Linked DNA regions of Homo sapiens. The protein of the gene in region 2 interacts with the protein of the main gene of each other region in a pairwise test. Each region holds a gene or a part of one and is shown on either strand. Other genes may lie near its edges.

Region 1 (3,500 bases), on a different chromosome or scaffold from region 2:
TATACTTATCAGTTAAGCATCCCCAGTTCTGAAATCTGAAATCCAGTTCTGAAATCTGAAATGCTCCAATGAGCATTTCCTTTGAGCAAAAAGTTTCAGATTTTGGAGCATTTTGGATTTGGGATGCTCAACCTGTGTAAATATTTGTTAATATATAATGTAAATAATTTTAAAAGATCTCAAACAACTTAATTTTGAAAATTACCATTTAATTATGCCAAGCAATTGGTCATTCTCCCTAATTTTCTAGTCCGCCTCTAATCTGTTCTCCTCAGTAAATAATAAAAAGATAGCACATTCATTTATTATAAAGCCCAAGTAGGTATAAGTTTAACTCATAACTGTTTGAAGAGTCAGACTTTATGTCTGAAATAATCACTTTATACAATGTGTGTGTGTGTTTTTTTTTTTAAAGGACTAGACTTAGAACCTTTCCCCATACTGTCAATGGTATACCTGGGGTAGTGCAGCATGCACATTTCAAGATTGTAAAGACTACTACCCGAATCCAAAATTGAGAGAGAACCTGTTTATATAAAACTCATTAGTGAACACTCTTCTTAACAGCTACAGAGGCTGCCAGTAGCTATGATGTCAATTCTCTACTTCATGCATCTGTAGGCTAAATGGAAAATTAAGATATGACTGAAGAGAAGCTCCTCTTCATATTCAGGTCTGCAACTTTTCTCTTTAAAAAGGAGAGAATTAAGATCAATGAATACCAATACTGGAGAACTTTACAACGTATGAATTAACTCCTACAGTTAAGGGGTCACTACTTATAACGTTGTATCAGTAAGTCACCTAACGATCTACTTGTATCATGTCTAGCAAACTTCACTGTCCCCATCTTACTTGCTTTCTCCATGACACCTGAATTTTCCTGATGCTTTCTTTCTCTTGACTTCAATGACATCTCCCATGTTTCACCTTTTTTCCCCTATTTCTATGGTTCCCTTTTCAGTCTTCCCAGATGCTGTGCTCTCCTTCTTTAATCTAACCTGTCAGATGGCAATATTTCTCATAGTTCTGACTTAGGCACTTGTCTTCTGTAACATACCTTGTGTGAAACACTCAAAAGCTTAAAAAAAAAAAAAAAAAAAAAGTCCCTGCATGAGGGTTTCCAGTATCTGTATCTTAGCCTCTGTTTTTCTTCCAGGCTCTGGATCTACTTTGTTAGATAGAAAGTTGAATATCTTCATCTCAGCATCCCACAGATACTTGCTCTGGCACTCTCTGTCTAGTCCAATCATAACCTCTATTCTTCTAGTACAGTATGTGATATATGAAGATCATAAATAATCAATGAATTCTACCAATGCCATAAATCCTAATTTCAAGCACCAAATTAAATTTGATACCTTTCCAAAGTTTGAGAAAAAAAGCTTCTGTAATTAAATATTTTTAGGTGCAGATTCATCTATTAAGATACATACAATAGTGGTAAACCTCTAAATTTATAGAGTTCTCTTATTTTAAAGTTATTTAGATAGTAGCTCATTTATCATCAATGACCTTGTCATGTTGGAGATGTAAAACTTTAGCTCCTCCTTTTGTTTGGTTGGATGGAAGAAATGAAGAACAGAGAGATAAGTGACTTGCCCAAGGCCACCCACTATGTCAGCCGGAAGGTCACCCAGGTTTCCCAACTTTCAGTCCAATCCTCTTTTTGCTATACTACGCTGTTGTTTAAAAGACATTCTATTAAGAACATGTGAGGCATTTGAATATATAAGGAGTCAAATTTTACAAATGCAATCAATATGAGACCATAAAAATAAAATGGATTTTTATCCCTTGCCCACATACAGTATCCTTTTCATTTTAACAAGTCCTAAAGAAGATATTATCCTTGTCCTCCGTATCATGATGTTACTACTTTGAAATAACCATCAACGAAGAGTCTAATATGTGCATACTATGTTAGATTTTTAAAAGATGTATGTACATCTAAGGCCAAACTAAAAATAACTCTTAAAACTTTGTTAAAGACACTCTTATTTTCCCAGTTTCCTAGTCTTGAAAGTTGTATGTAAAAGTGTTCAACAAGGCCTTACTAATACAATGCTCATAAACGTCAGCTGAATCTATTTTCTACTGAGTCCCAACTCAAATTACCAACTTTGAGCAATTTTATCTCCCAAGCCATTGCTCATGTTTACCTATTTCTTTCCATTTATTTAGCACCTTGGTCTGGACTTCATTACCTTAAGACTGCTGGAATAGCTTCCTATAAAGACTACCTTCTGATTTTTCCTTTTTTCAATCCATAGGATAGATATCCTGCTATAAAAATATAAAAAAGTCCCCTAAGATATTTATCTCATAACATCACGTCTTTGCTCAAAAATGTCAGTGCCTGCTTCCATTTGAAAATGCCTGATTTAGAATAGCTAGCATGATGTGCACATAGTTAACATTCAGTGTCAAAATATGAGCGCCCTTACTAACCTGAACCTGTCTTCTCAGTCTCCCCTACGCTCCCTACAAAATCTGTGTTTCAGCCCTTATTCTCTAAACATTCTCCCTCCTCTTTCATTCTTGTGCTTTCATCACAATGCTTGATACAAGATAAGCATGCAATAAATATTTACTCAGAGAATGAATAAGTGCCCAATGTTGGCTATTAAATTTTACCAATCCTTCAAGAAGTGAAGATTTTGTATATTTCTATAAAAGCTTTCTTGATCCTGCTAGTGAAGGAATATGATTCTTCCTCTCCTTCCCTTGCAACACTACAGCATTTTAATTGTACCTCCTTACGAGGAGTTAACCAACAGAGCAGACTATTACTAGTGTATTATTTTCATCCTGAGAATAGGGTCAGTTTTTTAAAAATATCCTTCTAACCCTTGTTGCACCCAGTAGACTGCCTTGCATATGAACACCAGTCAACTAATATGCCTCAAATAGTAGCAACAATAAAGCTTAGCTTGATTCTAAACTCACTGCTGGTTTTAGCACTCTGCAATTTTAAGTATTAGCAGAACTTAAATATTCCCTAATGATTATAGTAAATAATTTTGTTATAAAAGTCAGTGATAAGGTTTGGCAAACATTTAAAAAACCTGATTTACGCCGGGCGCGGTGGCTCACGCCTGTAATCCCAGCACTTTGGGAGGCCGAGGCAGGCGGATCACGAGGTCAGGAGATCGAGACCATCCTGACTAAAACGGTGAAACCCCGTCTCTACTAAAAATACAAAAAATTAGCCGGGCGTAGTGGCGGGCGCCTGTAGTCCCAGCTACTTGGGAGGCTGAGGCAGGAGAATGGCGTGAACCTGGGAGGCGGAGCTTGCAGTGAGCCGAGATCCCGCCACTGCACTCCAGCCTGGGCGACAGAGCGAGACTCCGTCTCAAAAAAAAAAAAAAAAAAAAAAAAAAAAAAAAAAAACAACCTGATTTACTTTTAATAAAGTTAGCTCTAGGACCAGAGCAGCTGCAGTTTAGATTGTAATTTCTTTCTTGGGTAACTGGAGATAGTTTACTGAAAGCAGACAA
Region 2 (3,500 bases):
CACTGAACTGGACCCAGCAACTGATGGCTGCTTCCTATGGAGAAAAATATGTAAGTTAATCAAATGGGCCAAAAAGCTCATTGAGCCCCAAGTCTTAGTACAGTAGACACACAACGGCAAAACTATTGCTACAAGAACAAAGACAAACCTTTCAAACAGTGTAGAAATAAGCGATAAGAAGTACCAAGAGTATAAAAGAAAATGAATTCTCACAAAGATGCAAAAAAGCAAAATAAAACAACAACAAAATGACAAAACAGGGCCAGTATTAAACAATCCGTAAGAAGATTTGCTTTTTTTTTTTTTCTCCTGTAGGTGTTGTTATAAAAGGAAGATGGGCCCTTGGGCTGTTCAGAATCAACTTCTGAACAATAATAAATTGCACGACAAAGGAAATTACTGGTTAGTGGAATCATTTACAAGTGTTACACATTCAAATGAAAAATATTTATTACATTATTTTTAAGTTGTAATACTGAGTCTCCACTGATTACTGGCAATACAGATAAAAGCCTCTGATCTAGATGAGGTCCCACTGCAGGGCTGCAGGCTGTGGTTTTGCCAGCCCTGCCTTTTCTGGGTCTGCAGGAGTGGATCTGTCCTGGCCTCAGGCCATAGTCTTGGCTTGGAGGGAGGAGTTAAGCCTGACAGCAGGAGAGGGAGAAGCATCTTGATTGGAGAGTCTTCATCTCTTCCTCCACCCAACCCAACTGGAGGAAACTGGAAGACCAAAAAGCAGCCAGAGCTTGTTTTCACTTTGTTGATTTAGACCAACTTTCTTTGCAAATAGTTTGACCAGGCAGATCATTGGAGATAACCTCCAATTTCATGCCAGCCTTTAATTTTAGTGAAGATGACATTATGCTTGACAGCAGTGGCAGATCCATTGCTTCCTCCCTCCCTCCCTCCCTCTCAGAGAACCTGCTCCGCCCCAAGCCCGAGATGATGAACAGCACTAGGTGGCCCATGACCCTGCCCGCTGGGCCACAGCAACAGCTGATTGAAATGAGACAGCTGCTGCCATTAGAGCCATCAATCTCAGCAATGCTGAGCCAGCCAGCATTACTCTCTCTCTCTCGAACTTGAAACCAGAAAGACAAGACTGACAAAGTTATGCTTGGGAAGATGTGTAGTGGGGGCACATATAAAATTGGGGAATGAAGCCCTCTGATGGACTATGTATAAGCAAATGTTTGGGCATGGCATTTATCCATAGGAAGACAATAATGAATTAGACCAAAATAAAAACACAGGTGAGAGAGAGAGTGGGCATGAAAGTGCTGACCTTCCCTTTCCTCCAAGGTCTTGCAGCTGGGTTCTGTGAGATCCCTATAATCCTCATAACACATCCTTTGTTATTTAAGCTTTTGCTTGAGTGGATTTTTTTTTCTCTTATGACCTACTGGCCCCTGACCATGACAGAAGTAATTTTACACAGTTGTTGTTTAGTCTTTGGAAGTAAGAAGAAAGTCTCCTCAAATGTGGCTGGTGGCCTCTGCTCTTTCCTTCAGCTCAGCCAAGAAATACTTATTCTGTTAGACACTGGCTTGGACTACCTGCTAAGCGGATAACCTTGCCAAGGCACAGTGCAAAAGCTACTGGACATGACACTGACTTACCAGGTTCTCTCAATCGGCCATGAAATCTGAGCAGAGCATTCAAACGCACAACGGAGTTCTTGAAACTACCACTGTCAGAGCCAAGTTGCAGGCAGGGAGTAAGAGCCCTGCAAACCAACCATGGAGCAAATCTCAGGGTAGCGTGTTTAGCTCTGCATGTCAGGAACGGATTAGCCTTCTGGCCTTCTTCTAGCTGCATCTTATCCCTTCCTTAACGCCTAGCTGGTGGTCCGCTGATGTTATCACCCACAAAGACAGAGAAAAGCCTCAGGTTATTTCTTCATTGCTATCTGTAACTTGCCTCTCGGCTGGCATCCTTCCTTGAGAAAAGGAGGTTTGCTTTGGCCAAGAATTCGATTCTGTTATTGGGATCAACCACTTTCAAGTGTTTTCTAACCCAAAACTCTGCAAACAAAGACTGTAGTATAAGGACTAGGAGATTAGCTCATGCCTGAGAGGGGAGCATTATGTGACAGGTGCAGGCTGGGAAAATGGGAAGGCTCTTTGTGCCCCTTAGCAAGTCCAGTGTGGCACTCCTGCCTCCTCTGAACATGGCCACAGCCGCAGCTGGTGCATGAAGGCAGGGAAGGCCTGGTACCTCACCCTGCCGAGGAAGAGTGCGCAGAAAAGGCTCCTGATCCAGAAGGGAAGCAGTCAGAACAATGTCCCATATGGGCCGGAGGGATTCCAGCTGCCCCACATGAGGATGATCCCTTTTCATGGGGCAAAAGAACTAATGACCTGCAACCACCATGTTTTGTTATTAAGCAAGCTTCACCCAAATTCCTATGTTCTAAGAAATAATGTTTATCCACCTCTAATGAGGGAGAACTTACTACATTCAAAGGTCCCCTATAACAGTCCCCTTTGTAAGCCATTGTATCCACATACAAACACATGCATCACACACATACACACAACACACATACACATATACATGCACACAGGCACCTATACAACACAAGCATACACACAACAGAAAATACACAAGACACACATGCATACGGACACACATAAAGCAAAAACATATATGACACAGACCCACAACACACACACATATGCACACATACAAACAACAAATAGACACATGCAATGCATACATACAACACACGATACATTCACAACACACATATATACATGCATACAGGTGCCTATACAACACAAGCACACATGCAACACACAACACAAAACAAGCAACACAAAATACTGACACAAGACACACACATGCATACACAGACACACAAAAACAACATATATGTACACAACACATAGACACACAACACACATATACATATGCACACAACACACAAAACACACTCTATTAGCTCACACTGGTTCCAAATAAAGTAAAAGAAAATTGTGACTGACATCTCCATGAATTCTCTGTTTCTGCCTTGAGCTGAACAATGAATGGTCTGGAAGCGATCTCCCGCCACAGGCTCCCCACTCAGCAGGTCTGTCACCCTCCGCTCCAGCAGGACCTTGGCATCAGGCTGTGCACCTGCTCTGAGCCTGCACGTGCCCTCATGCCCTCATGGAAGCAGGAAGCGTGTGGAGAGCACAGGTGACCACCTGCATGCACTTGCACTATGGTGGATGAGGGGTGGGCCTTTCCTCCAGGGCTCCTGCCCCTTAATGGCTTCTCATTTTTCACATGTTGCAATCCTTATGTATATATGTATTTATTTTTTTCATCTCTGCATGGGGGAGCTGGGAAACATGAGGCAGAGGAGTCACCTGCTTCAGAAGAGCCCTTTGCAGATGGAGAAACAAACGCCCGATATATGATCCCACTCTATTGTGCGACCCGCCTGGCGTGGTGCCTGCCTGGTGTGTGATCCACTTGGTGAGGGACCCTGCTGAAGTGTGTCTCAAGCCCTC

Evidence for each region.
Region 1: the proteins of TMEM132D (region 2) and NAMPT interact in a two-hybrid assay, tested with the Homo sapiens proteins (one large-scale study listed by BioGRID).

Annotation. Positions count from the first base shown.
Region 1 is NC_000007.14:106,264,484-106,267,983, forward strand, and holds part of NAMPT (nicotinamide phosphoribosyltransferase precursor), read right to left. Parts: intron 689-3,500; coding exon of another isoform or gene 670-688; exon of another isoform or gene 1-669.
Region 2 is NC_000012.12:129,075,026-129,078,525, forward strand, and holds part of TMEM132D (transmembrane protein 132D precursor), read right to left. Parts: intron 51-3,500; exon of another isoform or gene 35-50; coding exon 1-34. UniProt on the Homo sapiens protein: Regulate neuronals morphology via inhibition of the WAVE regulatory complex (WCR), a complex that controls F-actin cytoskeletal dynamics.